7 linked regions of the Homo sapiens genome follow. The protein of the gene in region 3 purifies or fractionates together with the protein of the main gene of each other region. This does not show direct contact. Each region holds a gene or a part of one and is shown on either strand. Other genes may lie near its edges. The genes, in order: UBR7, STK39, HEXA, ARHGAP1, SLC44A5, AHCY and HERC4.

The links.
Region 1: the proteins of HEXA (region 3) and UBR7 fractionate together in Homo sapiens (co-fractionation; one large-scale study listed by BioGRID). This does not show direct contact.
Region 2: the proteins of HEXA (region 3) and STK39 fractionate together in Homo sapiens (co-fractionation; one large-scale study listed by BioGRID). This does not show direct contact.
Region 4: the proteins of HEXA (region 3) and ARHGAP1 fractionate together in Homo sapiens (co-fractionation; one large-scale study listed by BioGRID). This does not show direct contact.
Region 5: the proteins of HEXA (region 3) and SLC44A5 fractionate together in Homo sapiens (co-fractionation; one large-scale study listed by BioGRID). This does not show direct contact.
Region 6: the proteins of HEXA (region 3) and AHCY fractionate together in Homo sapiens (co-fractionation; one large-scale study listed by BioGRID). This does not show direct contact.
Region 7: the proteins of HEXA (region 3) and HERC4 fractionate together in Homo sapiens (co-fractionation; one large-scale study listed by BioGRID). This does not show direct contact.

What each region holds. Positions count from the first base shown.
Region 1 is NC_000014.9:93,217,256-93,220,755, forward strand, and holds part of UBR7 (putative E3 ubiquitin-protein ligase UBR7), read left to right. Parts: intron 1-1,271; coding exon 1,272-1,480; intron 1,481-1,956; coding exon 1,957-2,106; intron 2,107-2,993; coding exon 2,994-3,156; intron 3,157-3,500. UniProt on the Homo sapiens protein: E3 ubiquitin-protein ligase which is a component of the N-end rule pathway. Recognizes and binds to proteins bearing specific N-terminal residues that are destabilizing according to the N-end rule, leading to their ubiquitination and subsequent degradation.
Region 2 is NC_000002.12:168,142,668-168,147,278, reverse strand, and holds part of STK39 (STE20/SPS1-related proline-alanine-rich protein kinase), read left to right. Parts: intron 1-4,611. UniProt on the Homo sapiens protein: Effector serine/threonine-protein kinase component of the WNK-SPAK/OSR1 kinase cascade, which is involved in various processes, such as ion transport, response to hypertonic stress and blood pressure.
Region 3 is NC_000015.10:72,351,575-72,356,175, forward strand, and holds part of HEXA (beta-hexosaminidase subunit alpha isoform 2 preproprotein), read right to left. Parts: intron 4,051-4,601; coding exon 3,985-4,050; intron 2,164-3,984; coding exon 2,117-2,163; intron 1,605-2,116; coding exon 1,494-1,604; intron 1-1,493. UniProt on the Homo sapiens protein: Hydrolyzes the non-reducing end N-acetyl-D-hexosamine and/or sulfated N-acetyl-D-hexosamine of glycoconjugates, such as the oligosaccharide moieties from proteins and neutral glycolipids, or from certain mucopolysaccharides.
Region 4 is NC_000011.10:46,690,170-46,694,780, reverse strand, and holds part of ARHGAP1 (rho GTPase-activating protein 1), read left to right. Parts: intron 1-4,611. UniProt on the Homo sapiens protein: GTPase activator for the Rho, Rac and Cdc42 proteins, converting them to the putatively inactive GDP-bound state. Cdc42 seems to be the preferred substrate.
Region 5 is NC_000001.11:75,204,986-75,209,596, forward strand, and holds part of SLC44A5 (choline transporter-like protein 5), read right to left. Parts: intron 1,735-4,611; coding exon of another isoform or gene 1,622-1,734; exon of another isoform or gene 733-1,621; intron 1-732.
Region 6 is NC_000020.11:34,285,861-34,290,471, forward strand, and holds part of AHCY (adenosylhomocysteinase), read right to left. Parts: intron 4,590-4,611; coding exon 4,472-4,589; intron 1-4,471. UniProt on the Homo sapiens protein: Catalyzes the hydrolysis of S-adenosyl-L-homocysteine to form adenosine and homocysteine. Binds copper ions.
Region 7 is NC_000010.11:67,988,284-67,991,783, forward strand, and holds part of HERC4 (probable E3 ubiquitin-protein ligase HERC4), read right to left. Parts: intron 2,917-3,500; coding exon 2,857-2,916; intron 2,733-2,856; coding exon 2,621-2,732; intron 2,118-2,620; coding exon 1,928-2,117; intron 553-1,927; coding exon 380-552; intron 1-379. UniProt on the Homo sapiens protein: Probable E3 ubiquitin-protein ligase involved in either protein trafficking or in the distribution of cellular structures. Required for spermatozoon maturation and fertility, and for the removal of the cytoplasmic droplet of the spermatozoon.

The sequences.
Region 1 (3,500 bases), on a different chromosome or scaffold from region 3:
ACCTCAGGTGATCCACCCACCTTGGCCTCCCAGAGTGCTGTGATTACAGGTGTGAGCTACCATACCCAGCTTAATTGGGTTTTTTAAATTGATCTCCTGCCTCTCCCTTCATTTCCTCTCCCATCAGCAGATGGCTTCATCTCCTATTACATTGAAATGCTGGCATCCAATGTGAGCTCCCCTATCGTTTCTCTTCTCTGTCTCAGAGTATATCTGCCACTACACCCATCATTTTTTTTATTTCTTCCTCCCATAAAGAAAAGCTGTTTTTAAAAAATTACCCTTCTGTCTGTGTTTACAATTCAATCTCTTCCTCCTGCTTCTTGTATTATTCTGTCTCTAACAAGTACAGTACAATATTTTCTCCTTTATGTGTAAAGTGCTTAAGCAGTGATTGATATTTTCAAATAAACTGTTTAATTATTTGAATTCTTTGGGTTAGGCAGACATAACCTAAAGAAGCGTTGGAATTTTCTTTCTCAGTATTTCGGAGACTACGGTGGACTAATCTCTTTTTCCAGATTCTGAAATATTTTAATATCAGAAAAAGTGATTTTAGGTCAGATGTGGTGGCTCATGCCTGTAATCCCAGCACTTTGGGAGGCCGAGGCAGGTGGATCACCTGAGGTCAGGAGTTCCAGACCAGCCTGACCAACATGGAGAAACCCCATCTCTACTAAAAATAAAAAATAGCCAGGCATGCTGGTGCATGCCTGTAATCCCAGCTACTCAGGGGGCTGAGGCAGGAGAATTGCCTGAACCCAGGAGGTGGGGGTTGCAATGAGCCAAGATCACGCCATTGCACTCCAGCCTGGGCAACAAGAGCGAAACTCTATCTCAAAAAAAAAAAAAAAATAGCAAAAGCTATTGTATGCCTGATGTGGTGGCTCACACCTGTAATCCCAGCACTTTGGGAGGCTGAGGCAGGCAGATCACTTGACATCAGGAGTTCAAGACCAGCCTGGCCAACATGGCGAAACCCCGTCTCTACTAAAAATACAAAAAATTAGCCAGTCATGGTGGCACGCACCTGTAGTCCCAGCTACTCGGGTGGCTGAGGCATGAGAATTGCTTGAACCTGGGAGACAGAGGTTGCAGTGAGTCAAGACCATGCCACTGCACTCCAGTGTGGACGACAGAGTGAGACTCTGTCTGTAAAAAAAAAAAATAATAATAATAGAATAAGTGATTTTATTGTCTGTTGGGATTTTATTGTCCGTTAGGTCAGTGGATATGTGTGTATGTGTTTTTCTTTTTCTTTGAACTCACAGTAACCAAAATATCCACTGAGGATGATGGATTGGTGCGGAACATTGATGGAATAGGTGATCAGGAAGTTATCAAACCTGAAAATGGAGAGCATCAAGATAGTACCCTCAAAGAGGATGTTCCAGAACAGGGAAAGGATGATGTCCGGGAGGTTAAAGTAGAGCAGAACAGTGAACCATGTGCCGGCTCTAGTTCTGAATCTGATCTCCAGGTAATGTGTGAAGTACGAGCCATCAAGAAATAAGACTGGGCCAGGCGCGGTGGCTCATGCCCATAATCCCAGCACTTTGGGAGGCTGAGGTGGCGGATCACCTGAGGTCACGGGTTTGAGACCAGCCTTGGCAACATGGGTAAACCTCATCTCTACTAAAATTACAAAAACTAGCCAGGCATGGTGGCACATGCCTGTAATCCCAGCTACTCAGGAGGCTGAGGCAGGAGAATTGCTTGAACCCAGGAGGCGGAGGTTACAGTGATCCGAGATCATGCCACTGCACTCTAGCCTGGGCAACAGAATGAGATTCCGTCTCAAAAAAAAAAAAGAAAACTGAAGTGGAATTAATTCTGTAAACTTATGGCTTTGGATTTCAATTTTATCCTTTGCCTAAAGAAATCTCTTTACAAAATCTAAACTATGAAAACTATGGTAGTTTAAAAAACATGCTTCAAAACTTAATTTTATTTCAGACAGTGTTTAAGAATGAAAGCCTCAACGCAGAATCAAAATCTGGCTGCAAACTTCAGGAGCTTAAAGCTAAGCAGCTTATAAAGAAAGACACTGCCACCTATTGGCCCCTGAACTGGCGTAGCAAGTTGTGTACCTGCCAAGACTGTATGGTAAAGTATCTGATTGTGCTCAGTGTTAGCATGTTTTGTGTACTGGTGCCCCAAAATAAGAACACCTGGGGAAAACATTCAATTTTTGTACCAGAGGAAGAAAGGAAAATAAAAAGAACACCTGAACAATATATTTATGAAATTAATGTTTAGGAGACCCTCCAAATTTTTACATTAAGCAAATTTATGACATAGTACTTACAGTTGGAATGTTTGTGGAAGAAATGGATAATTATGCAGTATTTTAAATTTACTTATTTTAATTTTAGTTTACTTATCTTTGTTATATCAAAGTTGCTTGGAAACACTGGTTGAAAGTTATAGTAAATTGGCCAGGTGCTTTGGCTCACGCCTGTAATCCCAGCACTCTGGGAGGCCAAGTTAGGTCTCGATCACCTGAGGTCAGGAGTTCGAGACCAGCCTGACCAACATGGTGAAATCCTGTCTGTACTAAAAATACAAAATTAGCTGGGTGTGGTGGCACATGCCTGTAATCCCAGCTCCTTGGGAGGCCAAGGCAGGAGAATCGCTTGAACCCAGAAGGCGGAGGTTGCAATGAGTCGAGATCATGCCATTGCACTCCAGCCTGGGCAACGAGTGAAACTCCATCTCAAAAAAAAAAAAAGTTAACAGTAAATCAATGGTTTTTAAATAAAGATCTCATAGACCATATGACATCTGGGAAATTGGGAGATTTCTGAAAGAAATTTAGGCAAAAAGAATAAATCCTTCTAGCAATTCTGTGTTAAAGACGCTCCAGTTTTTCTAGGTCTTAATATAAAAAAATTACATTTTTAGTGATTCTCAGGAAATTGGCTTTCTGAGAATGATAAACAGTTCTAATGGGGAAACTCCTCTTTCTTTTTTTTTTTTTTTTTTCCCTAAAGAAAATGTATGGAGATCTAGATGTCTTATTCCTGACAGATGAATACGACACAGTTCTGGCTTATGAAAACAAAGGGAAGATTGCCCAGGCCACTGACAGGAGCGATCCCCTAATGGATACCCTTAGCAGCATGAATAGAGTCCAGCAAGTGGAACTCATTTGTGGTAAATACTGTGTGTGTGTGAAAATTCATCATTTCCTTCACTATGTAAAAAAATATAAAGGGGGCAGTAAACACCTATATTTTTAATTTAATACAAAGAATTAAAATTTTGAATTTTAGACCATTGCTTGATTTTCATATTGGTGGGTATTCAGCTGCTTTTACCATTGAATCAGAGTTACATGCTAGAATAATTACATGCTTGAGAAACCACAACATATGCTATTCTGATTAAGGGTAGATGGATGAATGCAAATTTTCCATCCATTGAAACAATTTTTGGACATTATGTGTCATGTTCTTGAGCAAGGCATGTCACCATTTTGACAGTTCTTGAGGTTGCTT
Region 2 (4,611 bases), on a different chromosome or scaffold from region 3:
TCAAGTCTTGAGAGTCTCTCATGAGAAAAAAACAACAACTGGGAATCAAACCAAATTATAAAGAGATAGGTTTTCATGATATAAATATGACATTTAGGATTAACCAGTGAACCTCAAACCAGTTTTTCTGTGTTGGGTAATCACAACTTGATCTTTACTCAGAGAAGAGCTTAGGAGTTGCGGAATCTTAACCCCATTATTGCATTTTGCATTTCCTTCTCAATAAAGAAAAATACACTGAACTTTCCGGAAGAGGAGACTAGGGCTAAGTGGCTGACTCCTTTCTGAAGGACTGTGAATTTTATTCAGACCTTCGATAACTTGCTGTGTGTTCCTTGGCAAGTCATCTAATCTTTTTATTCCTTCCTCTTTTCTTAATTCCAATATCTACTAAATCATCGTATTTTCTTAAGAATTGGTCTAATCCTCTCCATTTCCAACCTCTCTATTCATATACAGGCTCTGTTGATTTTGCTCCTGGGCTATGGTTGTGGTCTTCTCTGCTTCTAGTCTTTTTCCTTTCTTGAACATCCCTGCATGGTCACTTTTTCCAAATGTTGTTCTTCTCTAACGAGAGAGGGAACAACAGCTGTTAATTGAATCAGGTACAAATTCCCTTACCTGGTGCTCAGACTCTGTGGTTGGTTGGGCCCCTCAACAATCTCACCCAGTACTTCCCTGCTTTTAAAAATAATGGCCTCTGTGGAAAAGAAGCTGCTTGTAGGAAAGAACTCTCAGGGTCCCCTGAAGCTATGGGGGCTCCTATTGCTCCAGACTCCCACCCAGCCACTTAGGCATCAGTGTCTCTTTTAACTCATTGTAGCTACATTTTAGGAAGCTCTGAACTCTCAAACATTGATCCCGTTACTCTCTGATCAAAGAGAGTCAATGTTGTTCATGCACAACTCAGGTTCCTTTTCAAAGAGAATAGCAGATACTGTAGAAGTTTGAGGTAGGTGAGGCTTGGGTACTCACCCACAGCTTCCCTTACAGGTTTTAGAGAAATCAACTTTCAGACCAAATTTTGCCCTTCATTAGCAAGCAAGCCCCTAAACAGTTCTCACAATTTGTTCTGTAAGCTCAAGGAAATCCCAGTTCTTTTTCCTCATAGGTGAATGAAAAATTCATTAGAGGCAGACATGCCAAGATTCCAGATGCAGTTTTTGCTTTATCCTTATGCTTGCTACTAGGAATCCAACCATCCACAGAACTGGCTAGGGTATAGTCTACAGTTGGACTGGACTGGATTGTTTTATTCTGTTCATGCAAGAGTAAGGAGTATATCTAAAATATTTTAGCCACTCTCTGGTGCTAAGAACCTTTATTTTCAGCAGTGAAAGCCCATTTCTAACATGTATCATACCTCTCAACAGGTCACTGTTTTCCCTAATAATAACCCCTTTGGACAATCAGTCACCTGGCTTATGCTCATCTATATTTAGATTTGGATAATAGAAATACTTCCAGCAGCTGCCTCTGGCATCCTGAGTCGAGTGCTATCAGAACCCCCCCAGCACTGGACATTCTTGGTTAGAATGCCAGCTGACCACCTAGGTTGTGGTATCACAAACATAATATCACATGGCATATGTTGAAGTATTTTAGGTACATTTTAGACATCATAACCACACAGTTGGCAGACTTTAGTTTTGCGGACTAAATTAGGCAGGAGAAATCGCTTTTCTATTTTTTTAAAAATGAATTTGTTGCCAACTACAGTAAGAAAGGGAGCTTTTTCATAAAGATTCCAATGTTTGGCTTTTTTGGGAAAACTGGGATATCCAGCAATCCTGGGTCTACATTTCTCTATGGCAACTTTCTTCTGGTGCCAAGCAGCAGGGGCCTGCCTTGGACCTTGGTGGGAGGGTGCTGACAGTGGGCTCCAGGGCTTCACACAGGGCCCAGCACTCCTAAAGTCTCCCGTCACAGAGACTGAGCATCAAGGGCCCTTGTCACTGAGACTGTAGCTGTTGTTTTTCAGGACCCTCTTTTCTCCATTGTATTCCTGCCTGGCTGCTGTAGGTGTTTTGAGTTTTTGACCCTTGCAGCTGTCAGTTTTTCTTCTTGGCTCCACACTTGTGCTTTGCTCATGCCGTTTCTTTGTCTGGAATTTGTTTCCTGTTGGACTTGCTCATCCAAGTCTTCACCTCATCTTGAAGGCTGGCTCCAAGACCCACTTTGGAGATAGTCTTCTATGACCATTATGGTTATAGCTCCTCTGCTTCTACACAGACAATATAGTATTTGATTTTATACATCTTATCCTACTTAGGTGGGAATATTCTTTTTTTTTTTTTTCTGAGACGGGCTCACTCTGTTGCCTAGACTGGAGTGCAGTGGCATGATCATGGCTTACTGCGTCCTCGACCTCCTGGGCTCAAGCGATTCTCCCATTTCATCCTCCTGAGTAGCTGAAATTACAGTTGCATGCCACCGCACCCACCTAATGAACTATCATGCCCGACAAATATTGTTGAAGTCAAGAAACATGTCTTCTCCTATTTTATCTCTGCCACTGTAAAATATTTATGCTTATCCCCTCAGCCTGCTTGCCTTGCTTATGAAAAGGCAGTGAGTAGCTTATCGATCTACCTAACAGTTGTTATAAAGAATAGTCATACATGGTAAAAAAAAAAATGAGTCTTATAAATATGAAAGTAATATAGAAATTGAGGCTCGGCATGGTGGCTCATGCTTATAATTCCAGCACGTTGGGAGGCTGAGACAGGAGGATCGCTTGAGCTCAACAGTTTGAGAACACCTTGGGCAACATAGAGAGACCCCATATCTACAAAAAATAAAAATAAATTAGATGGGCATGGTAGCACATGCCTGTAGTCATAGCTGCTTGGGAGGCTGAGGTAGGAGGATCGCTTGAGCATGGGAGGTTGAGGCTGCAGTGAGCCATGATCATGCCACTATGTTCCACCTTGGGCGACAGAGCGAGACTCTGTTTCAAAAAAATAAAATAAATAAATAAAAATAGGCCTAAATAAGAAGCCCAATAAGGCCCAGAAAGTTTAAGTCCCTTTCGGGAGTCATACAGTTGGGTAATAGTCTAGCCTTAGGCCTAATCACTGTTAACACTCAGATCTTGCCCATTAGTCCTGTAATGTTTCCTAGTAGATCTGCCACTCTCCAAATCAGATAACCATACCTGCAGATCCTCCTCAAGGCTTAGTAGCATTCACACATCAAAACTAGACCATGACCAATGTTACTGAAATCAAATTACGCAAAGGTGATGAATGCACATCAAATTACTCACCAAGAGCCAGGGTGCCGGAGATGCTGTGTCATTAACAAGGTCATGCAGAAAGCCTTCTGCTGGTGCACCTGTTCAGCATGGAGGGTTGATGTACCTAGACGACAAAGCATCATGTGCAAGGGCAATGCTGGTGAGGCCAAGGAGGTGATGGGATCAGGGAATAAAAAGTAAGTCATTCAGTAGGCTGGAGCTTACTGTCTGAATCTGAGAGTAGTGATATAGGTTTACGTGTTATGCTGAAGGATTTTGACTTTTTCCTGAGGGGACAGGGAGCCTTGAAAGACTTTTTTTTTTTTTTGAGACAAAGTCTTGCTCTCTTGCCAGGCCAGAGTGGAGTGGCATGATCTCAGCTCACTGCAACCTCCGCCTCCTGGGTTCAAGCGATTCCCCCGCCTCAGCCTCCAGAGTTGCTGGGACTACAGGCGCGTGCCACCAGGCCCAGCTGATTTTTTGTATTTTTTTAGTAGAGATGGGGTTTCACCATGTTGGCCTGGATGGTCTTGAACTCCTGACCTCGTGATCCACTTGCATTGGCCTCCCAAAGTGCTGGGGTTACAGGCATGAGCCACCGCTCCTGTCCTGAAAGTCTTTTAAGGAGGGCTCAGGCCTGTGACATAGAAAGGCCTGGTTGCTGGAGCCTGGATCTGGGGAAAGAAGGGAGATGGGAACTTAGGAGGCTGCTGCAGAAATCTTAGCAAGAAGTAGTGGTGGATTAAATGAAGGCAGTGGCTGTGGAGGAGCAAAGAAGTGGATGGATTCAGAAGGTCTTAGACCCTTTTTGTTATTAGGATGACAGCATTATTTGTTGTTGTTGTTGTTTTTCTTAAAGCAGCATTTACCCATATCCTCCAGTTATTCCTGGAGGCAGGGAGATGGACTGGCTAACTTTATGTGTAGCCTTTGATTCTGTGTTTCTAGAGAAATGTCTGTGGTTTTGTACCCAAGTGAATCTGGCTGCATTCCCTTTGGCTGTATAGATGTACCCCTTAGGAAACAAGGACAGCTTTTCACTGTTACAGTTCTGCCACCTTGTTCTAACTGTCATATGCAAGCTATCTCAATATAATATACCAATTTTTTGTGTATATAACATAAGCACACTATGTACTTTGCTCAAAATGTTCTGTTACTGAGTACATATAATCTGTATACACATCAGCCGTACATAGGAGCAAATTGTATATTTCTTCTGTAGTCATAGAGGGAGTAGATATTAGGATTGTTGTTTTCTGCTCCTGAAATTTTTGTTCTGAGTTTTAAAGACATTTAGCCATCTGTTTATGACTTTAAAGTGAGTGTTCAAAGTGGAGGCTCTGAATGTATGTATCATTACAGATATATTG
Region 3 (4,601 bases):
TCCTCTTGCCATTTGTGTTCGGTTGTCTGACTGATGTTAAGCCCAACTGTGAGACCTCCTGGGAACTTAGTAGCCTCTTAACTCATAATCTCAGAAGCAAAGGCTGGCAGATGTGTGGCCTCCTTTGGTTCCGTCACAGGAGCAAAGGAAAAGGCAGACACAGGAACTGGATTGGGAACTGTCAGATAAGACTGCACATTAAACTCAAGAGAGTTAGGAACTTCCCCAGGAAAGGCTTTTTTTTTTTTTTTTTTTTTTTTTGAGACAGAGTCTTGCTGTGTCACCCAGGCTGGAGTGCAGTGGCACAATCTCAGCTCACTGCAACCTCCACCTCCCAGGTTCAAGTGCTTCTCATGCCTCAGCCTCCTTCCTTCCTTCACTTATTTATTTATTTATTTATTTTTGAGACAGGGTCTCTGTTGTCCAGGCTGGAGTGCAGTGGTGCAATCACAGTTCATGCATCCTTGATCTCCCCAGGCTCAGGTGATTCTCCCATCACAGACTCCTGAGTAGCTGGGACTACAGGTTTGCGCCATCGCGCCTGGCTAATTTTTTGTATTTTCAGTAGAGATGGGGTTTCACCGTCTTGGCCAGGTTAGTCTCAAACTCCTGAGCTCGGGCAATCCACCCGCCTTGGCCTCCCAGAGTGCTAGGATTACAGGTGTGAGCCACTGCACCTGGCCCCAAGTTAAGGCTTTGAACGTCTCTCTCCTATGACCTTGTTCTAACTAAAGTTAGCTCTGCCGGCCAGGTGTAGTGACTCATGCCTGTAATTCTACCACTCTGGCAGGCCAAGGTGGGCAGATTGCTTGAGCCCAGGAGTTCAAGACCAGCCTGGGTAACATGACGAAACCCCAGCTCTACAAAAAATACAAAAAAAAAAAAAAAAAATTGAGACGCTGTCTCAAAAACAAATATAGTTAGCTCTGCCAATGAAGCCAATTCCCCTAAACATTTGTATCCCTGGAAACAGCCTGAACATTGATCTACAGTAGCCTGTAAGGTAGATTTAAGTCACTCTGTTATTTTTTGAGTCTTGGAGCAGCTCATCTTCTACATTTTTCCCAGGAGCTCATAGAATTACATACAATTTTTTTTTTTTTTTTTGAGACAGCGTCTCACTCTTTCACCCAGGCTGGAGTGCAGTGGCGTGATCTCCACCCACTGCAACCTCTGCCTCCTGGGTTCATGCGATTCTCCTGCCTCAGCCTCCCAGGTAGCTGGGATTACAAGCATGCACCACCATGCCCAGCTAATTTTTGTATTTTTAGTAGAGACAGAGTTTCACCATGTTGGCCAGGCTGGCCTTGAACTTCTGACTTCAGGTGATCCGCCCACCTCGGCCTCCCAAAGTGTTGGGATTACAGGCATGAGCCACCACACCCAGTCCATACATTCCCTCTCTAACTCTTTAAGAATTTGGAACTTGGTCTGTCCGTTGCTCCATCACCCTAGAACTCTTAAGTGTGAAGAAGGCCTTAAGGCCTGGTTACCAGAGTGTCCAGGATGCTAGAGAGTGGCAGGTAATGGCGAGATGTATCCAACAGCAAGCCCCGGTGAGGAAAGCGGGGAAAGTCCTCAATCTCAGTCTTGTTGATAAAGAACTGTGCAGAACAAACATTGAACATGTCAGTTTCAAAGGAAGCTTACTATGGGGGCACAGGGAGATGAAGACAACTCTCCCAGGATTCTTAAAAAGCCAATCTGTGACTGTTCTCAGGGTCGCTCTCTCCCTAAATGCTCCCCACCTCTATAAATGACCATAAGCAGCCACCTTCCCAGAGAGCAATTGTCCAACGCCAGCCTAATACAACTGTCCCAAACACCACTCAGCCTACAAATTCTGGATTTTCCTGTTAACATAGTTTATTTTCTTCAAAGCAGTGTGGCCTCAAGGTCATTACTAAATGATGACTCAGGGGGACCAAATTACAGTGATTCCAAACAGACCAAATCTACCAAACCAGTTTTCCACTCACATCTCCTCTTCCATTTCTACTGGGGCTATCTCAAGCCACCAGGATCCTAAGGCAAAACAAGATTTTTCTAGGATTCTCAATATTGGGATCCAACCCCAGAGATGAAAAAGGAGCCCTTTTTGAGGGTCCACACTTACTGTGCCCTCAGCAGATTTCCAAACAAGCTGGCTAAAAGTCTCCAGACCTAGGAAGATGTAGAGAGGCAGAGTAAAGACTCAGGGAGTGGAAAAAGAGATGTCTCTATTTGGAAGGTTCTCAATGTAGCAGAGCATAACATTTGGGTACACAGGGAAAATGGATGTAGTGTAGGCTTGACGATTTTTAACACTGATGAAAAGGGGATATTAGGAAGCCACTATCCATCTTTACTTCTGTATTTCATTTTGGGAGATGTCAGAGTAAGGGTTTTAGTGCCCTTCCTTACAACATACTAACCTTCAAAACCCACATACCTCTTATCTATATTTCCTGTGCCTTCACAAGAATATTGAGAAGAGAGGCCAAGACATATACTCATGAGGACAGACACAGAGACAACTCAGCCTGCAAGAGTTGGACTTTTCATGGATAACCCCTATCAGGAGCTAAGAGAGCTGAGAAAAGGGGTCCCAGAATAAATTGTGAGAAAGTGATCATAAGCTTGGGTTTCCAAGGAGCCTGGGTTCATGGCTGGACCTAGAAGATAAAAAAAATCATCCACTCTTCCTCTTCAGAGTCTAAGAAGAGACCCAGCTATAGGGAGCTGAGGTGTGGTGGACAGCAACTGCCCCAGAAGGACTCCCCTAGTCCACTGACACTGTCTCCTAGAGTCTAGCAAGGCCCACACACAGGTATGTTGAACCCAGAGTATTGTATGTTCTCAACAGCTGGGGCCCCTCTTCTGGAAACCCTGCAGAAGCCCCATGAAAATTATCAGAGTCCCCAGTTTCAAAGTGAAAGAATCCATGAGACCTCAGCAGTCACTCAGCACCTGATTTGAGCAGACTGCTAGTGTACTGTTTTGGCTTCTCCCCACTCTGACTCTGACACCCAGCATTCTGGAGTTCCAGGTCCTCCCTTACCTCTAGCCTGACTCACCATCAGCACCTGCATGAAAGGTACAAGAGGGCAGGAAGGGGAGGCAGCATGCTGTTGCTCCAAGCATAGAAGTGGAGCAAGGGAATGAAGACAAACTAAAGCAAGGTGTGGAATTCCGAGAGAGTTTCCCACATCATTCACCAGCAGAGGGTTTACCAAAAGTGGGAGAGATATTTGGCTAAGTCTGTATCTAGGCACCAAATGCCTTCTCAGTAAACCCAGAAGAAGGGCAAGGGCCAATAGTTTAGCCAGTAAACTCATTTTCTCCAGAAATAATGTAGTTCTAAATATTTCACTACTATTTATCTTTTTTTTTGCATGTATCTATTTCTTTTGTTATAGTTTTCCTTTTAAAAAAACCTTTCCAATTACATGTCTTTAGCAAGAGCTGGACAGACAGTGTCTGTGGTAGCATCATTCCCCCTGCCCCCAGCTACCTGTCCCCTGCTGGCACCTAGAACATCAGCCCACAGACTCTCCTACTGCTTCCCAGAGCCCCTGACTAGGGCAGCAGCAGTTGCTGATGCTGCACAGGGTAAAACCTGTCAACTTCCAGGGACAATTCCACAGAGACGGGAAAACACGCCAATTGTTCCCATAAAAAAAGCTTCCTGGCTGGGCGCGGTGGCACACACCTGTAATCCCAGAACTTTGGGAGGCCGAGATGGGTGGATCACTTGAACTCAGGAGTTCAAGACTGGCCTGGGCAATATGGTGAAATCCCATCTCTACTAAAAATACAAGAATTAGCTGGGCATGGTGGCAGGCACCTGTAATCCCAGCTACTTGGGAGGCTAAAGAGGGAAGATTGCTTGAGCCTAGGAGGCAGAGGTTGCAGTGAGCAGGGACTGGGCCACTGCACTCCACCAACACCAACCTTCCCACATCATCCTTTCTCTCTCTCTTTTAATCAGCCCCAATTTGTTACCTCGGAGAGCTCCCCAGACAGTCTCAGAGAGGAGTAAACACTGGTCATCATTTATGGTCAGGGTATCTGAAATGACAGAAATGAACTCATTTAGTTGGTTAAGGTTTTCTATTCTCAGATTATAGACCAGATATTCTATATAAATCACTGGACTAAAAAAAAAAAACAGTAAGACCATATATTTTAAAAAATCTTTCAATGAGGAGATGTCCCCAGAGCAAGACAGCTGTAGGATGGCCTGGTCTGGGGCCAGAGTGGGAGGGTGGTCACCACAGTGACTCTGTAGACCCTGGATGATGATGTACAGCAAGAGTCAGGCTGGAGTGGAGGTCTGTACAAAGCACCACCTACCTCATGGGTCAGTTTCCACAGCAGAAAGATGAAAGAAGTCTTCTCCTGGCAAAGGGAACAGGGATGCCTGCAGGGGTGAGTGCAGCACGCGATGCTCCCAATGCCTTTGTAATCACCCTCCTTTCCCCTTCCTCTATGCTTCAGCTACTTCCTCCAAGAATGTGAGGAAGGAGCCAAACTCAACTGTTCACTTTGGAGACTGAGAAGTCCCCAAATGCTGCTCAGGGAAGACAGGAGGCAGTCACTGGACTAATGACTTAACTTCA
Region 4 (4,611 bases), on a different chromosome or scaffold from region 3:
GCGTTTGTATTCTTGGCGCCTGCCCTGATCTGGGTTGAGGGCCTTGGCTCTGGCCTCATTCACCCCCTGCAGAAGCAAAGCTGAGAGTTTTTTCCCCAGTCTGGTCCTGAATTGGGCACGGGAAAGTCACCTTGAAGGTTCTGAACTTGACTGGAGTCTGGGGGGTACCTGATGTGAAGGAGTCTCTGTCCTGACATCATCCTGGCCTGTTTGGTCAAGGCAGAGCTGGGGGAGCCTGCCCCTCCCCACCTCCGTGGGTGACACCTCCTTCCCCACAACCCCCGCACAGAGCTGCAATTTGTTTCTATTTCCCTAGACTACGATGAGCCTGAGGGGGCCCAGCCAGGTAGGTGTCCGTCCTGGCTCGCTGTGCTTGTCCTCTTTGGACTGCAACCTCTGGGGCTGTGGATCAGGAAGGGCTCTCGGTGGAGGCCAGATGGGGCTAGCTTAATTGCAGTCTCACCCTGGGGAGCTGGGAGTTGGTGGTGCCTGGGAGTCGGAAATAGCAGAAGATTTATGGGAGGTAGGATGGGGGTGGGGGAGGCTGTGTGGGGACACACCCAGGCCCCAAAGGGAAAGGAGCTTGCGGGAGGGTCTGGCCTTGGGCAATGGCCTCTGAGTGGTGGCTCAGGGACCTTCTGGGTGATGGTGTCCCCATGGATGTGCCTCCCTGATTGCTGAGAGGAGGCTGGATTGGCATCACCAGGCACTCATTTGGTGAGACCGTGGAGATGTCCGGGAGAAGCCCTTGTAGGAAGGGAGGGTGGGTTATAGCCTCAGCTCTCCCTGCCGGGAATAGTTGTCATGCCCCAGGGTCAGATTTGGCTCAGTCCCAGTGGGTTCTTTCCAGTGGTGTGCTGGTAAATGGCTCTCTGGAGAGGGGGAAAAAGGCCATGATTTGTAGCATTTGCAGTTTCTGCCTCCCAGCTCTCTAGCTACCAACATGATGTCAACTGGCTTGCAAAATTCCTGACAGTTGAACAGCTTAACAAATGTGTGAGCTGGCTGTAGCACATGACTGGCTCCATCAGCCCAGCCCTACCTCCCAGGTCCCAGGCCTGCTGGTCCGGTTGTGGGTGGGGCTGGTTTGAGGGGGCCCAGAATGCCTGGGGAGACCTGTTGGTGATTAACTCCAGGGCCACCCTGGAGTTAGGACCAGCCTGGGCAACATAGTGAAACCCTGTCTCTACAAAAATAATAACAATAAATTAGCCAGGTGTGGTAGCCTGTGCCTGTAGTCCTAGCTACTTGGGAGGCTGAGGTGGGAGGATCCTTTCAGTCCAGGAGTTGGAGGCTGCAGTGAGCTATGATTGAACCACTGCACTCCAGCCTGGGTGATAGAGCAAGATCCTGGCTCAAAGAAAAAAAAAAAAGATTACAGTCTAGTGAAGTGGTTCTTAAAACTGGTCACAGTCCACTTTGCAACTATGAAAGGTATCCCCAGGATAGGGGGGATCTCTTTGACTGAAAAAAAAAAAAAGTGCAGCCAGGTGCGGTGGCTCACACCTAGTAATCCCAGCACTTTGGGAAGCCAAGGCTGGTGGATCACGAGGTCAGGAGTTCGAGACCAGCCTGATGAACACGGAGAAACCCCGTCTCTACTAAAAATACAAAATTAGCTGGGGTTAAGGCCAGGCGCGGTGGCTCATCCCTATAATCCCAGCATTTTGGGAGGCCGAGGCGGGCGGATCATGAGGTCAGGAGATCGAGACCATCCTGGCTAACACAGTGAAACCCCGTCTCTACTAAAAATACAAAAAATTTTCTGGGCGTGGTGGCGGGCGCCTGTAGTCCCAGCTACTCAGGAGCCTGAGGCAGGAGAATAGCGTGAACCCGGGAGGCGGAGCTTGCAGTGAGCGGAGATCGTGCCACTGCACTCCAGCCTGGGCAACAGAGCGAGACGCCGTCTCAAAAAAAAAAAAAAAATTAGCTGGGTGTGGTGGTGCATGCCTGTAATCCCAGCTACTCAGGAGGCTGAGGCAGGAGAATCGTTTGAACCCAGGAGGTAGAGGTTGCAGTGAGCTGAGATCACGCCACTTCACTTCAGCCTGAGCGACAGAGCGAGACTGTCTCAAAAAAAAAAAGTGCACATGCTTGTAATATTTGTCATATAACATCATGGAGGTGCTGTGTCTGCTGAGCACATTGGTGGAGCCCTGGTTCAGAACCCAAAGCTTCCCACTTACAAAGTGCTGTGGCCAGCTGAGAGGAGACACCACAGGCCTCCAGCCCTCCCCCCAACAGCTTCCCTAACCAGTTGCTACCTCTTATATTTTAGACCCAGGGGCCTCACAGACTTTCTGCCCTGGCTGAATCCTCAAATCTGCCAGCCAATGAGGCCTGCCTTGCTGCTGGTGCAGATGTGAGGTGCGGGGACTCATGGGCTGGAAGGAAAGATCCTTTTGGTAGCCCCCATTGTCCTCGAGCATTTCCCCCAAATCCTGGTTATTTCCTCGCTTAGAAGGAGGTAGGCAGATGAGGCCCCCTCTTCCCAGGCTGGTGGTAGGCATCTCTGGGGTTTCTGAAGCTCCAGACTAGTGAGACTGGGCTTGCCAGTCTAACCCTTTGTCCCTGGCCCCTGCCAGTCTGCTTTTCCTTCCACTGTCAGAGCCAGTGGGAAGTGAATCAGAGCAGGCACATAGCCCCAGAGCCACCCCCAGCTGGCCTCCGGGATCTCAGCACCTCAGGATCTAGGCTAGGGTACGAAAGAGAGCAGGTACCACCTGGTCCTTCAAAACAGACCTGCCGGGATGGAGCTGCACCTCCTCTGCAGACAAGCTGGTAGAGGATTCTCTACTTGCAAATCTGGAGACGTTCTGTCCTGAGCTTTGGGAAACTCACTATCTGAAGCAGTCTGACCCATAACCAAAGCATAATCAAGAACAAACACAGAGGCCAGGTGCTGTGGCTCATGCCTATAATCCCAATACTTTGGGAGGCTGAGGCGTGCAGATCATCTGAGGTCAGGAGTTGGAGACCAGCCTGGCTAACATGGTGAAACCCTGTCTCTACTAAAATACAAAAATTAAGGCTGGGCATGGTGGCTCACACCTGTAATCATAGCATTTTGGGAGGCTGAGGCGAGCAGATCACCTGAGGTCGGGAGTTTGAGACCAGCCTGACAAACATGGTGAAACCCCGTCTCTACTAAAAATACAAAAATTAGCTGGGTGTGGTGGGACATGCCTGTAGTCCTAGCTACTCAGGATGCTGGGGCAGGAGAATCACTTGAACCCGGGACGCAAAGGTTGCAGTGAGCCGAGATCGCGCCATTGCACTCCAGCCTGGGTAACGAGCAAAACTCCATCTCAAAAAAAAAAAAAAAAAAATTAGCCTGGTGTGCTGGCACCTGCCTGTAGTCCCTGCTACTTGGGAGGCTGAGGCAGGAGAATCTCTTGAACTTAGGAGGTGGTGGTTGCAGTGAGCCCAGATCACTCCACAGCACTCCAGCCTGGATGATAGAGACTCCATCTCAGAAAAAAAAGAAGAACAAACACAGAAATATAACTAGAACCAGGCATCCCATAGTTTAATGGTGACCTGCGATTTTGTGCAGGCTACCAAAACGTATTGAATACCTGCCACATGCCAGACACTGGACCAGTACTGGAGACTGTAGGTGCCATGGTACGCAACTGTAATCCCAGCTACTGGAAAGCTGAGGCAGGAGTTCAAGACTAGCCTGGGCAACATAACAAGATTCTGTCTCAAAAAATTGTTTTTAATTAAGCAGGTGGGATGGCATGTGCCTGTAGTCCTAGCTACTCAGGACATGGGAGGCTAAAGCAGGAGGATTGTTTGAGCCCAGGAGTTCAAGGCTGCAGTGAGCTACAGTTATGCCACTGCACTTCAGCCTGGGTGACAGAGCAAGACCCTGTCTCTTAAAAAAAAAAAAATCACAGCTTGCCAGGAGTAAACAAAGAAAAAGAACAAACAAAGACAATGAGACACAGCCTCTGTCTTTGAGCTGCTCACAAGCCTGTCAGGGAGACAGGTACATAAACAATTCTACAGGAGAGTGAAGGGTCAGGACAGTGATGGGTGACGGTTTATGCTGGGAGCCATGAAAAGGGGCAGCTAACCTGTCTGGGGAGAGAGGGCGAGGACACAGGATTCCAGGCGGCGATTATGCCTGCATTGAGTCTTAAGGGTTGGTGGGGGCCCTAGAATATCTTAATGAGAAAGGATAGAATGCTTAGAAACCTACAGAAGTCAATCAGAACCAGTGTCGTCCATAATTCTAGTAATAAGCTGGGTGCAGTGGTGCACACCTGTAGTCTCAGCTGCTTGGGAAGCTGAGGTGAGAGGATCACCTAAAGCCAGGAGTTCAAGAACAGCCTGGGCAACACATTGAGACCCCCATCTCTTTTCTTTAATTTTGTCTTTTTTTTTTTGAGACGGAGTCTCGCTTTATCACCCAGGCTGGAGTGCAGTGGGGCGATCTCGGCTCACTGCAAGCTCCGTCTCCTGGGTTCATGCCATTCTCCTGCCTCAGCCTCCCGAGTAGCTGGGACTACAGGTGCCCGCCACCACACCTGGCTAATTTTTTTTTTTGTGTGTGTGTTTTTAGTAAAGACGGGGTTTCACCATGTTAGCCAGGATGGTCTCGAT
Region 5 (4,611 bases), on a different chromosome or scaffold from region 3:
TAATCTAGAAAGATAAGTTGTCATTATCTGCATTATGCTTCAAGGAGAATAAGAATGCAGAAGGCTCTTTGCCAAAATGTGAAGCCAACTGACACTTTTGAATACAATAATCTCAAGAATGTAAGCCAAGAACAAGCTGGTAGTCATTATATATTAAAAATCTTCCCTATTCATTGGCTTATTGCTATTAATTAATCTGCCACAGAGTCAGTTTAAATCTAGGTGTCTACACTTGAAGATAATTAATACGTATTTAGATCAATCTATAACACAACAATACATTTCTGACTCTTTTCTTGGATATATGAGTGATATTCAGATCAACATGTTCCTTTCTGTCAATATATAAATAATCCTTATATACAAGTTTAAGGTAAAAGCCAAGAAAATACAAATTGATTCAATGCTCCTTTTGGGGTGCATTTTTACATGGTTAACCACATCATACACATTTGCACACAGGGGATGGCTAGGCAAGATGTGTGTCTGATTCATGCTTTGTTCTGCCATTCAAAACTTACACATGACTATCAGAAACCTCAGGCGGCCAGCGGTGGCAGGTGGCAACAACTTTCCTCCTAAGCCCTGCAGAGAGAGAGTTCCTAACCCACAGTATGCCCCTCATAAAGGTATTAGATGATGGAGCGCCAACAGTATATTTCCTTAGGGTAAAATCTGAAGTGTCTTTCTTTTCTCTTTCCTCACTGAAAGGTGAGACAAAATCAAACCTTCTGTAGAACAAAGCCACACAATCTCTTTAATCTAGAAATACAGGTATACTCATGAAAAGATATAATCACTCTTCTGAAACAAATTCATATTGATTTTCTATATAGTGGGAATAAGAAATTTGGGTTAAAGACAAAAGGCATGAGTTATGTAACAATTTCAGTTTTGTTCAGAATATTTTCACCATGGACAGAGGTTCATGTTGTTGGAAATGACACTCCAGAACTCAGATTCGACTTCAATATAAACATGATTTCACTAAAACAGAATGGGCTCTGAAGGTTCCATAGTATTTTTTACCCAGTAATGCTCTCCGTAGAACCTATATAACATTAACATCTATGTTTGTTATGGACATGACTCACTGAAATATACTTCCTAGGGAACCATTAATACAAGTTTAATCACAGTTTAGAGAGTTGTCCACCAGCTTGAACAGTATAAATATAACCATAGCACCATATTTACAAATTTAGTACCATATGCTGGTTAACTATAAATCAATATTTTATGGCTAATTAATTACACATTTATAGTGTTTTCAAAAATTGCCTGAATATCCTTTACAAATATACACTTATAAAAAGAAAGGCTATTAAAGTGCTGCAATGGAAACAGCACGCTGAGTTATAAAAGTTATTAAAACACTCTCGGCTACAGATTTTAAAAAACGTTTGACATTAACATTTTGATCTTTAGCTGGGACCACTGTCTATAAAGTAGACAGCAGCTAATGTCATCAAATACCTGACACCTCAGGTAGTACCAGGTGCTGACTTCTTAGAATTAAGCACAGAAATTTCACATTACTCAAAAGCAACATTTCCAAATTACAATCAACCTAATTTACACAACTTCTACTTAAAAATGAGTGACACTGTTTGGAGCTTTTCTACTCTTTCTGCTTCTGGGGAACTAGTTGCTTCTTGATCAGAATTCCATGCAGGTTAGGGGTTACGAAGTAGGGTTTTTCTGTAGATCCATCATTTCTTTCCAGATCTTCACCTGTATATGCAGCAGCCAAAGCAGGCAAAAGCAGAAGCAGCAGAACAATTATACACATTTTTATAAATTGGAGGGTCGAACAGGGAAAAATCAGAAAAATCAGTGTTAGAAAGTCAAATATAAGACAAATTAGTGCAGTTTACTTGCTGATTCTGGGCAAGGTAAGAAACCTCAACCTCTGCCAGGAAACACTGAAACTTCCTAAATCCCTCCCACTCCCAGAGAGATGTATTTTGATACTTTAAAGGCTAAGAAGATATTCTATGTCCCTTCAAAAAAGTGTCATATTTAAATTCTGTAACTGTTCATTTCAGAAAGATATAAATTGCCAAATCCTCCGGGATGGAGCTGAATAGGAAGTATATTAATTCTGTGATAAATGTAGAATAATAATGGAATTTCAGACTTTCAAGTCACTTCTAATGGTAGTCCATACTCCGATGTTACAGACGAACACCCTGAGGCCCAGGGATATAAAACAACTCGCTGAAGTCAAAAGCTCTGAGGTAAATAGGATGAGATAGGGACCCAGCTTCTTGACACCTAGTTTTGCTCTTGTTCTACTTAACTATAAGGCACCCTGTCCTAAATTCTTGCGGTCTTCCTCAGATTGTATTTGAAAGCTAATGTCAATGTATTCTGACTCTCATAATACATTAATTTACCTTTCAGCTTTGCTTAGGCTAATATTAAATTGATGGCATGTTCACTGACCACCCACCTGCTGGCTAGTTGGGAGGAAGCACCAGAATTATGCTGACAAACAAGGATACATTTGCATGAAATTAAGCCTCCCGCAGATATATACAATTCACAGCAGATAGTAGCTATAGTCTTGGGAATGGTTGGGTCATTGGTTTAGTAGATTTCTACTAGCGCTCACAGTGACCTTCCTCACATACAAAATGAAAAGCAAAAGAGGGAACATGATAGACGCTGAACATTTTGCTTTTTTTTGTCCTTAATCCTATTTCTATACAATAGTCCCCTCTTACCCAGTTTTGCTTTCTACAATTTCACTTTCTGTGGTTTTAGTTACCCAAGGTCCAGAAATATGAAATGCAAAATTCCAGAAATAAACAACTCATTAATTTTAAATTGTGTACTATTATGAGTAGCATAATGAGACCTCAAACCGTCAAGCTCTATCCCACCCTGGCAGGGAATCCTCCCTTTATCCAGCATCACCTTGCTGTCTAGGATGCTCTTCCCTTAGTCACTTAGTAGCTTTCTCAGTTATCTGTTGCAAGATCACAGTGCTTGTGTTCAGGTAACCCTTATTTTAGTTAATAATGGCCCCAAATTGCAAGATTAGTGTTGCTGGCAATTTGGATAAGCTGTAAAATGCTTCCTTTAAGTGAAAAGGTGAAAGTTCTCGAGTTAATAAGAAATAAACTTATACTGAGGTTGCTAAGATCTACATAAGAACAAATCTTCGGTTTTTTGTTTGTTTGTTTGAGGCAAAGTCTCACTCTGTCACCTAGCCTGGAGTGCAGTGGCGTGATCTCAGCTCACTGCAGCCTCTGCCTCTCAGTTTCAAGTAGTTCTGCTGTCTCAGCCTCCAGAGTAGCTGGGATTATAGGTACCTGCCACCATGCCTGGCTAATTTTTGTATTATTTGTAGAGACAGGGTTTTGCTATGTTGGTCAGGCTGGTCTCGAACTCCTGATCTCAAGTGATCTGCCGGCCTCGGCCTCCCAAAGTGTTGGGATTACAGGCGTGAGCCACCATGCCCGGCAAAACAAATTTTTTATACGTGAAATTGTGAAGAAGAAAAAAGAATTTTAAGCTAGTTTTGTTGTATCTCAAACTGCAAAAGTTATGGCCACAGTGTATGATAAGTGCTTAGTTAGGATGGAAAAGGCATTACATTTGTGGATGGAAGACATAAACGGAAACATGTTCCAATTGACAGCAATTGGGTTTGGTACTATTAGAGAATTCTGGCATGTCCAGGGGTCTTGGAATGTAACCCCCATGGATAAGGAGAGATTACTGCTGTATATAACATATCTATCTTGTTATTACTCTTAAGGTACTGGTAAGAAGTCTGGCCTGGATCACATTAATAAGCATCTACAACTATTATTTTTTTCCCACTCTGAGATGATGAATCTCAGTACCTTGTAATAATAAAAAGATTCCATGTTTCTAAAAATGAAGTGTTTACAAATGGTTTGCATTGTAAAAATCACCAGTTTTCTGGCAGCCAAGACAATAGGAATAAATAAATAAATAAATCTACACATTCAGAATTTGGCTCAGGGCATCATTTAAGAAGAATATTTTACAAAGTGTGATGTTGCCCATAGTAACAGCTAGGGGAGGAAGAGAAACACAATTTAAGTTTCCTTGTTCTTTGTTATCACAGACAAGTGTCTCTGAAAGGAAATGATTCATGTCAACATGCAATACACTGAATCAAGCTGATGTACCTGGCTTTCAAGGAGTTGGCAATTAATAAAGATGGTGGAAAACATTTCTTACTGTCAAAATTCAAAATCAACTGCCAAACTTAAAATCCACATATTAGCCAAAACTTCCAAAGACTGGAAGCTAGTAGGTTCTAGACATTTCCTGAGACAAATTTTCATAAGTATTTTCAGCTACAAGAATGGGGAAGGTCACATAGTGATTTCCAGTTATTGCTCCCATGGTTAATGTTGGAGATGAGAGGAGAGATCTTTGAGCATTCTAGAGCCCTGCGTCCACCATGTTTTAGTGCTTGACCTTACTCGTGCTCCTTCTTCCATCCCATACCTGAACTGTTTGTTCATGTGATATTTTGTAGATAGATGGCTTTCCTTAGACCACTGAAGCACTAGGAAAACATTAAACATTTCATTTCCATTTACAACCAGAGGAAGAGCTAACTAG
Region 6 (4,611 bases), on a different chromosome or scaffold from region 3:
AAGGCCGAGGCAGGCGGATCATGAGGTCAGGAGATCGAGATTATCTTGGCCAACACAGTGAAAGCCCGTCTCTACTAAAAAAAAAATACAAAAAATTAGCCGGGCGTGGTAGCAGGCGCCTGTGGTCCCAGCCACTCGGGAGGCTGAGGCAGGAGAATGGCGTGAACCTGGGAGGTGGAGTTTGCAGCGAGCCGAGATCGCACCACTGCACTGCAGCCTGGGCGACGGAGCGAGACTCTGTCTCAAAAAACAAAAAACAAAAAAACAACAAAGAAATGCTGAGCTGCAGACTGCACAGTTCTGCTGTGAGAACTTCACGTGCTCACACTTGCTTGGCGCATATGAGGCACTCAGTAAGCAGCAGCTAATGTTATCGTTATGATCACTGTCATGTGCCCTGTACTAAGTCCTTTACAGGTAACTACCACATTTCATCCCAGAAACAACCCTGTGATTTCAGTACTGCTGTCATCCCCATTTCAGATTCAGAAACTGAAGTTTACAAGGGTTAGGTCACTTGTCCAGAGCCACACACTAAGAGGAGGCTGCAATTTGAGTCTGGACGGTCTGAGGACAGATCCCATGTTCTCAATAACCATGAAATAGTTTTGAATGCAGCTTAGCAAAAGCTGAATGCCGTGGCGCTCACATTGGAATCACCTCAGAAGCTTTAAAAAATGAGGATACCCAGGCCAGACGCGGTGGCTCATGCCTGTAATCCCAGCACTTTGGGAGGCCAAGGCGGGGGGAATCACCTGAGGTCGGGAGTTCGGGACCAGCCTGAACAACATGGAGAAACCCTGTCTCTACTAAAAACACAAAATTAGCCAGGCATGGTAGCACATGCCTGTAATCCCAGCTACTCAGGAAGGCTGAGCCAGGCGAATCGCTTGAACCTGGGAAGCGGAGGTTGTGGTGAGCCAAGATCGCGCCATTGCACTCCAGCCTGGGCAACAAGAGCGAAACTCCGTCTCAAAAAAAAAAAAAAAAAAAAAAAAAGATACCTTGGCCTCATTCCCAGAGACTCCTATTCCTGTGGCCCACAGTGTGGCTCCCAGGTGACTGCCAAGGTTGAGAACTCCCGGTTTAGTGAGTGAACGTGACATGGAAATCCCCAGCCTCAGTGCCCCAGTCCTCCGTCTGTCCCAGCTGTCTGAACACACAAACTTGCTTTCTCCCCACTCCCAGCTCTTCCCTTGCCATCCCTCCACCCTCAGGCAGCCTCCCAAACATTTCCCCAAAAGCCCAGGTTTCCAAGCTGCTCCAGAGGCCTAGTACCGATCCAAGGAAAGGTCTCTGATGCCCATCAGGCATTGATTGATGCTTCAATCAATAAGCACTCACTGATACCCATCTAAGCCCCTTGCAGGGACACGTCAACCTGGACTCTACCCTCCTGGTACAACAGTGGGGTCAGAGACCAAAGCCAGTGATGGATGCTGCACTAGGGGTCTGTACTAAGAGTGTGGGCATTGCCTCTGCCAGAGGAGCTGGCCAGGAAGGGGGTCTCTTTTTTATTTTATTAATTTTTTTTTTTTTTTTTTTTCTGAGACGGAGTCTTACTCTGTCATCCAGGCTGGAGTACAGTGGTGTGATCTCAGCTCACTGCAACCTCCACCTCCTGGGTTCAAGCGATTCTCCTGCCTCAGCCTCCAGAGTAGCTGGGACTATACGCATGAGCCACCATGCCCAGCTAATTTTTTGTATTTTTAGTAGAGACAGGGTTTGACCATGTTGGCCAGGCTGGTCTCAAACTCCTGACCTCAAGTGATCCGCCTGCCTCGGCCTCCCAAAGTGCTGGAATTACAGGTGTGTGCCACCGTGCCTGGCCAGAAGGGGGTCTCTTGAGCTGGGCTGAGAAGATGAACAAGGAGAAGGGCATGTGTTCTGTTCCAGACAAATGCAGCTGTCTGGACAGATGAGCAGAAGTAGGAGCTGCAGTGGGTATTCAGGGAGTGGTCAATTATGGCCTGAGTACAGAGGCCCTTGAGAGGACGGACAAGAGATAATGTTGGGCAGAAGGTTGGCAAGACTGTCAAGGATGTTGAGGGTGGGCATAGAGTCCAGCTTTGGAGGGCAGCTTGGCAGAAAGGTGCCCATCACCCCAATGTAGCAGGTTTCACCTGTGATGCCTTTGCAAAAAGGAGGTCTAGACAGATGGCTGTCAGGGGTGTGGCTGCCACAGAAGCACGCCCTGGCCACCCCCACACTGTGATGAGTGCCAGGCCTTCTAGGCAGAGATGGAGGTGCCCTCTGCCTAGCCGGGAACTGACACCCTAGACTAGTGCAGGACCTAGCCAAGGAGAACTCCCACGCAGGAGCAGAGCACCCAAGAGGAGCAGTGTAGGGGATGTGGGTTCATAGAGCTGCCTGTCTGCCTCTCTGGGACTTGGGCTTCTGGTGTGGCTGTGACTGGGTGGGTGTCAGGGCTTTGGCCAACTCTGTGTCTGTATCTTCCTTATCATATCTCAAACACGGCACAGCACCAACTCAAAGAACCTCACATAGGTGGGCTTTTCTCCCTTTAAAAAATGTGGTGGACCTGGTGTGGCAGCTCACGCCTATAATCCCAGCACTTTGGGAGATAACTTAAGCTCAGGAGTTTGAGACCAGCCTGGGGAACACAGCAAGGCCTCGTCTCTACAAAAAATAAAAAGTTAGCCAGGTGTAGTAGTGCACATCTGTAGTCCCAGGTACTTGGAAGGCTGAGGCAGGAGGATCAGCTCCTTCAGCCCAGGAGGTCAAGGCTGCAGTGTGCCATGATCATGCCACTGCCCTCTAGCTTGGGTAACAGAGTGAGCCCATCTCAAAAAAAGAAAAAAAAAATGATGAACATCTCTACATACATATTTAATTATCCTAAGGACCAATTATAGGAGAGATTGCCCAGTCAAAGAGGTTGCTTAACTTTAAAGCTCTTGATATCCAAAGCCAAAATGTCTTCCAGAAACATACTACTTTTATAATCAGAGAAAAAAATAAACTCATAATAATTGCAACTCAAGTAAAACTTCACACCCCCTATAAGAACTCATCTTCCAGTTTCAGTGCCCCAATGCCCAATGCAAACCTGTTCTTTCCCAGCTCAGTGCATGGGCCTGCTCCTCACACAGTGATTCAAGCTGTGTCCCTTTTTGTTTTTTGTTTTTAGTTTTGTTTTTGAGATGGAGTCTCGCTCTGTTGCCCAGGCTGGAGTGCAATGGCGCAATCTCGGCTCACTGCAACCTCTGCCTACCACGTTTAAGCGATTCTCATGCCTCAGCCTCCCGAGTAGCTGGGATTACAGGCACCCACCACCATGCCCAGCTGATTTTTTTGTTTGTTTGTTTTTGAGACAGAGTCTCGCACTGTCACCCAGGCTGGAGTGCAGTGGAACAATCTCGGCTCACTACAACCTCCATCTCCCGGGTTCATGTGATTCTCCTGCCTCAGCCTCCCAAGTAGCTGGGATTGCAGGTGCACATCACCACACCCGGCTAACTTCTTGTATTTTTAGTAGAGACGGGGTTTCACTATGTTGGCCAGACTGGTCTCAAACTCCTGACCTCGTGATCTGCCCACCTAGGCCTCCCAAAGTGCTGGGATTACAGGCATGAGCCACTGTACCTGGCCTTTTTTTTTTTTTTTTTTTTGAGATGGAGTCTCACTCTTATTAACCAGGCAGGAGTGCGAGGGTGCGATCTCGGCTCACTGCAACCTCCGCCTCCCAGCTTCAAGCAATTCTCTCCTGCCTCAGCCTCCCAAATAGCTGGGATTACAGGTGCCCGCCACCACACCCGGCTAATTTTTCTATTTTTAGTAGAGATGGGGTTTCATCATATTGGTCAGGCTGGTCTCGAACCCCTGACCTCATGTGATCCGCCCGCCTCGACCTCCCAAAGTGCTGGGATTACAGGCATGAGCTACCGCACCCGGCCCAGCTAATTTTTTTGTATTTTTAGTAGAGACGGGGTTTCAACCATGTTGGCCAGGCTAGTCTCGAACTCCTGGCCTCAGGTGATCCGCCCATCTCGGCCTTCCAAAGTGCTGGGATTACAGGTGTGAGCCACCATGCCCGGCCAAAGCTGTGTCCTTTGTTACTCTGCCTCCATCCTGACCCCACATGCCGTCCATCCACCCCAGCACTCCCTAAGCTGAGGCTGCCATCATCCCCTGCAGGGATTCTACGAGCCTCCTCTAAAAGCCTCTCTCCCCACCACCCGCCATTGTTGCTTTTATTCTGCACACAGTAGCTAGAGTGATCTTTCTAAAACTACAGCCTCACCACATACAGCTCACCTGCCTGATACCTTCAGGGATGCCGGCTGCCCACAGGATAAGGTTGCCACGTCTGGCTGGCTCTGATGCTAGGCCCTCTTCTCCCCATCCCCCTGCACAGGTTGCCACCATCTCCTCAGCTCTCCTCCCTGGCAGCCAGCACTCCTCTGCACTCCCATCTGCCCAGCCCACTGGCAAGGCGGGAGCTTCTCACCTGCGGCTTGATGTTCACCTTCTCCACGGCGTTCTCGTTGAGCCACTTGACATCGATCTCCACGTCAAAGTGTCCAATGTTACACACAATGGCATCATCCTTCATCTGCTCAAAGTGCCTGTCAGGCAGCCCAAGACCGT
Region 7 (3,500 bases), on a different chromosome or scaffold from region 3:
ATGTTCATAATTACAACTAGGACCCAATCTCTTTCACAAGATAACCACTTACAGCTAACAAAAACCATATAATGCAAACTAACAAATTATATTCTTCATAAGGAAATATAAGGAGAATTCTAACTCATTAGTATGTTATTGTTCTGCCCAACTATGGATAAGTTATCTATACATGCCTAACAAAGTCAGGTAAGACCAGAGCTCCAAAGGACAGGTTTATTACTTCTTTTAAGAGAAAGTATAGATAACTTTTCCAAATTTCTATAATATGCATTGTTTTTGCCAATCTAAATCTTTAATAGATTAATGTTAAAATGAACAGTATCAATCTGTTAATAGGAATGGGGAAAGAGGAAAATAAAGGAATGATTGGACATACCCTATGTAGTATTTCTAAAACCTTTAATGCAGTATGAAGAAAACTGTTGAAAATTCTTCTTTCAGAAGGGGGAATACCGATCTTGTAGAGTTTCAAAAGATGTACCACAACTTCCTTAAAAAGTTCTACTATCTTGAGGAATAGTGGAGGTTCAAGTACTGACCACCAGTTTTCTGTTATTAAAAAGTGAACATGCAAATAAAATGAATTTTTTAAAAAATCACAATTTTCAAAATCATACTGACTTTTTTTCTGAAACAGTAGTTGTTAAACCTGAGAAAACCCCAGAAAGATGCATATAACACAATATCTTATGTAACATTTGTAAGGTTTATAAACCTCCCCCCGACCAAGTTAAACAATATTGTCCGAAAAGCTCTCAAAAGCAAAAATAAAGTGTGAAAGTCTTGTTGAATTTATATTCTTGGTTTCCTAAGTTATATAAAAAACTCACCACTATACCTAATATTAAAACCAGTTTTTAAAAAATGTTTTGAAAATTACAGTTTCAATTTTTAAACAAAACATCCTTTAAATTGTATTGCTCTAATACTAAAGGATCTTTCTAACTTTTATCTTTCAATTTAATATATGGTTGAAATATTGTGAACCACTACCTTTAAAATGCAAGGTACTCCTGAAGATCAAATACAGAAGCTGAACAATGTAAAGTGTAACATATGGGTCCTTCCCCACATTCACTATTTGTAGTTACTAAGTACAAACACTTCAATCCTATGAAGCAGGCAGAAAGAATACAAAAACTTCTGACAACAGGAAAGCAATACTCTTTTCAGTCCCTGCTTGACTCTTTTTCCCTCAGATTCCCATATTCTACCCCTTGCTTGTTGCTTCCTCCATTTACCCTCAGCCTTAAAGTTCTTGTACTGACATTATTACTTCTATATATCTCAGCTCCACATATCTAACAAATACCATTAGAAAGAAAAGCACTGGGTTAAATGTAGCAAAAAAAGTATAAAGGCCAGGAAATAGAGATAAAATCTAGACAATTAGAAAAATTAAAGTGAGAAAACTTTATGCCAAAAAACCAGAACAGTAAGAGATAGAAGTGCAAGATCAGATGAGCAATAAAATCTAGTCTATAGGCAGAAAAATAAAATCAAATATCATGAAATTAGCAAGTGAAGGAAACACAAGATAAAGGGCTTATATCAGGGTTCCAAGAAGATTTAAAGCCCATGTTTGTTCAGTTTTAATTGTTCCTCCTCCTTTACTTCTTTAATAGCAAGATTATACTAAAGGCGATGAGGGAAAGGAATACGGGTGACAGTTTTTAACTTTCCTAATACTGTCTCTGCTGTTATGTTTAATTGAACTTCTATATCTAACATGTTTTTCTTTCAACAACTCCAACAACTAGAATCAAAAGACTAGACAAAAGCAAGAAAAGGAAAAACAGGTTCATTTTTGCCTAAGACAGTGTCAAATAAGCAGGGCAGCAGAACTGCAAATGGCAAAAGAACTTATGAAGCATTTTCATTTAAAGAGAAAAGGTTTCAAAAGAAAAAATATTAGAATTCTTACCAAGTACTTTCAGTGGTGCCTTTTCTAGGTTCACAAGAGCTGTACCAAAGGGAATTGCTATTGTTGTGAAATTGTTGGAATCACTCATCAGGGGACATTCTGGTAGAGTAAGATAAAACCTCAATGCTTCAACATCAGGTAAGGAGCTAGTCAGTTTAGGAATAAGATTCTTTTCCAAACTAGCTGCCACCTATATTTTGACAAAAAGTAAAACCTACTTCATTTAAAATGAATACACTTTCAAAGAAAAAAAAAAAAAAGGAAGGCAGGAAGAAAAGAAAGAAAAGGAAAATTTTGCACTACAGCAAATATGAAATGGTGAAGAAGAAAAAAGAAAGACAATGTCTTACAATGAATATACTTTGGAGCACAATGAAAATTAATGCCTAAGCATTACTTGGAGAATTTAAAAAATCACGTGTACAAGTCTCAATTTAAACTCTCTACCTCTATAACCATACACAAACTTAAGCAACGTGGTAATGTTAAGTAATTCAGGGTCTGCTTCAAACATCTGAAAAGATTTATAGATCTTTGACAGCTAAATTACAAATGCTTTAAAATAAAATCTTATTTTAAAAGCACATCGTAAGAGTCTGTGAAACTGCAAAGTAAATTAGGCTATAAACGTATAAAACAAAAGAAAACAAAATCAACAGATAATACTGTAAACATAATACTTTAAAAACAGACCTGCTGAGATATCTGCGGATGATCAGGTTGTATAAGTTTGTGGAATAAAAGCCTAGCAGCATTCATATCAACCCCTGAAAATCTGGTACCTGTTCTATAGTGATCATCATTGCTAAAAAACAGAAAAGAAAAAAAAAAATAGAATAAAAATTTAAAATTATTTCATTTTTTAATTTGATATACTATTTAAGACAATAAATTTGAAAATTTCAGCATATTAAAGAATTGCCACTTACCTAACAGCTAAAAAACTTCCATTTAGGCAACCAGAGGAAGAAAACGTTCCATCTATCTCACTAAAAAATTTAAAAAAGTTTTTTTAATCATAGAATCAGAAATTTAATTGTTTACCCTTTCTTAAAAAAGAATTAAAATGAATAATTAATCTAATGTTTAATGCTACAGAGCACTCCTCTAACACCCAATTAGATGAATCAGAATTACATAAATTGCTAAAGACTGATAAAATAATACTTGATGAAGGTATTACTGTTTATTCTAGACTTTCTTAAATATTACTTTCATCCATTTATCCAATGTTATCTGCTTTAAAACATGGTATTTTAAAAATTAAGTGTGTATGTTCATGTAAAAAGTTTTTTAATTTAAAAAAATTTTAAACATTTTATATTGGCAGTGAGCCTAATCTGGGATGCCTTTGGGATTTTCAGAAAAATTATAGTTTTGGAAAACAAGCTAGAGAAACAAAACAGCTTTTCAAATACAACCCATCATCCCAAATACCAACAAAAAACAAATAACATCTTAAGTGCTACTAGGCAAGTTAACAAAATATTCAAGAAAGAAATAATACTCAAGTCTTCCACAAAGTATAAAAGTTAAGATAGTGACCATTATAAAACCAGAAGGAACACATTTC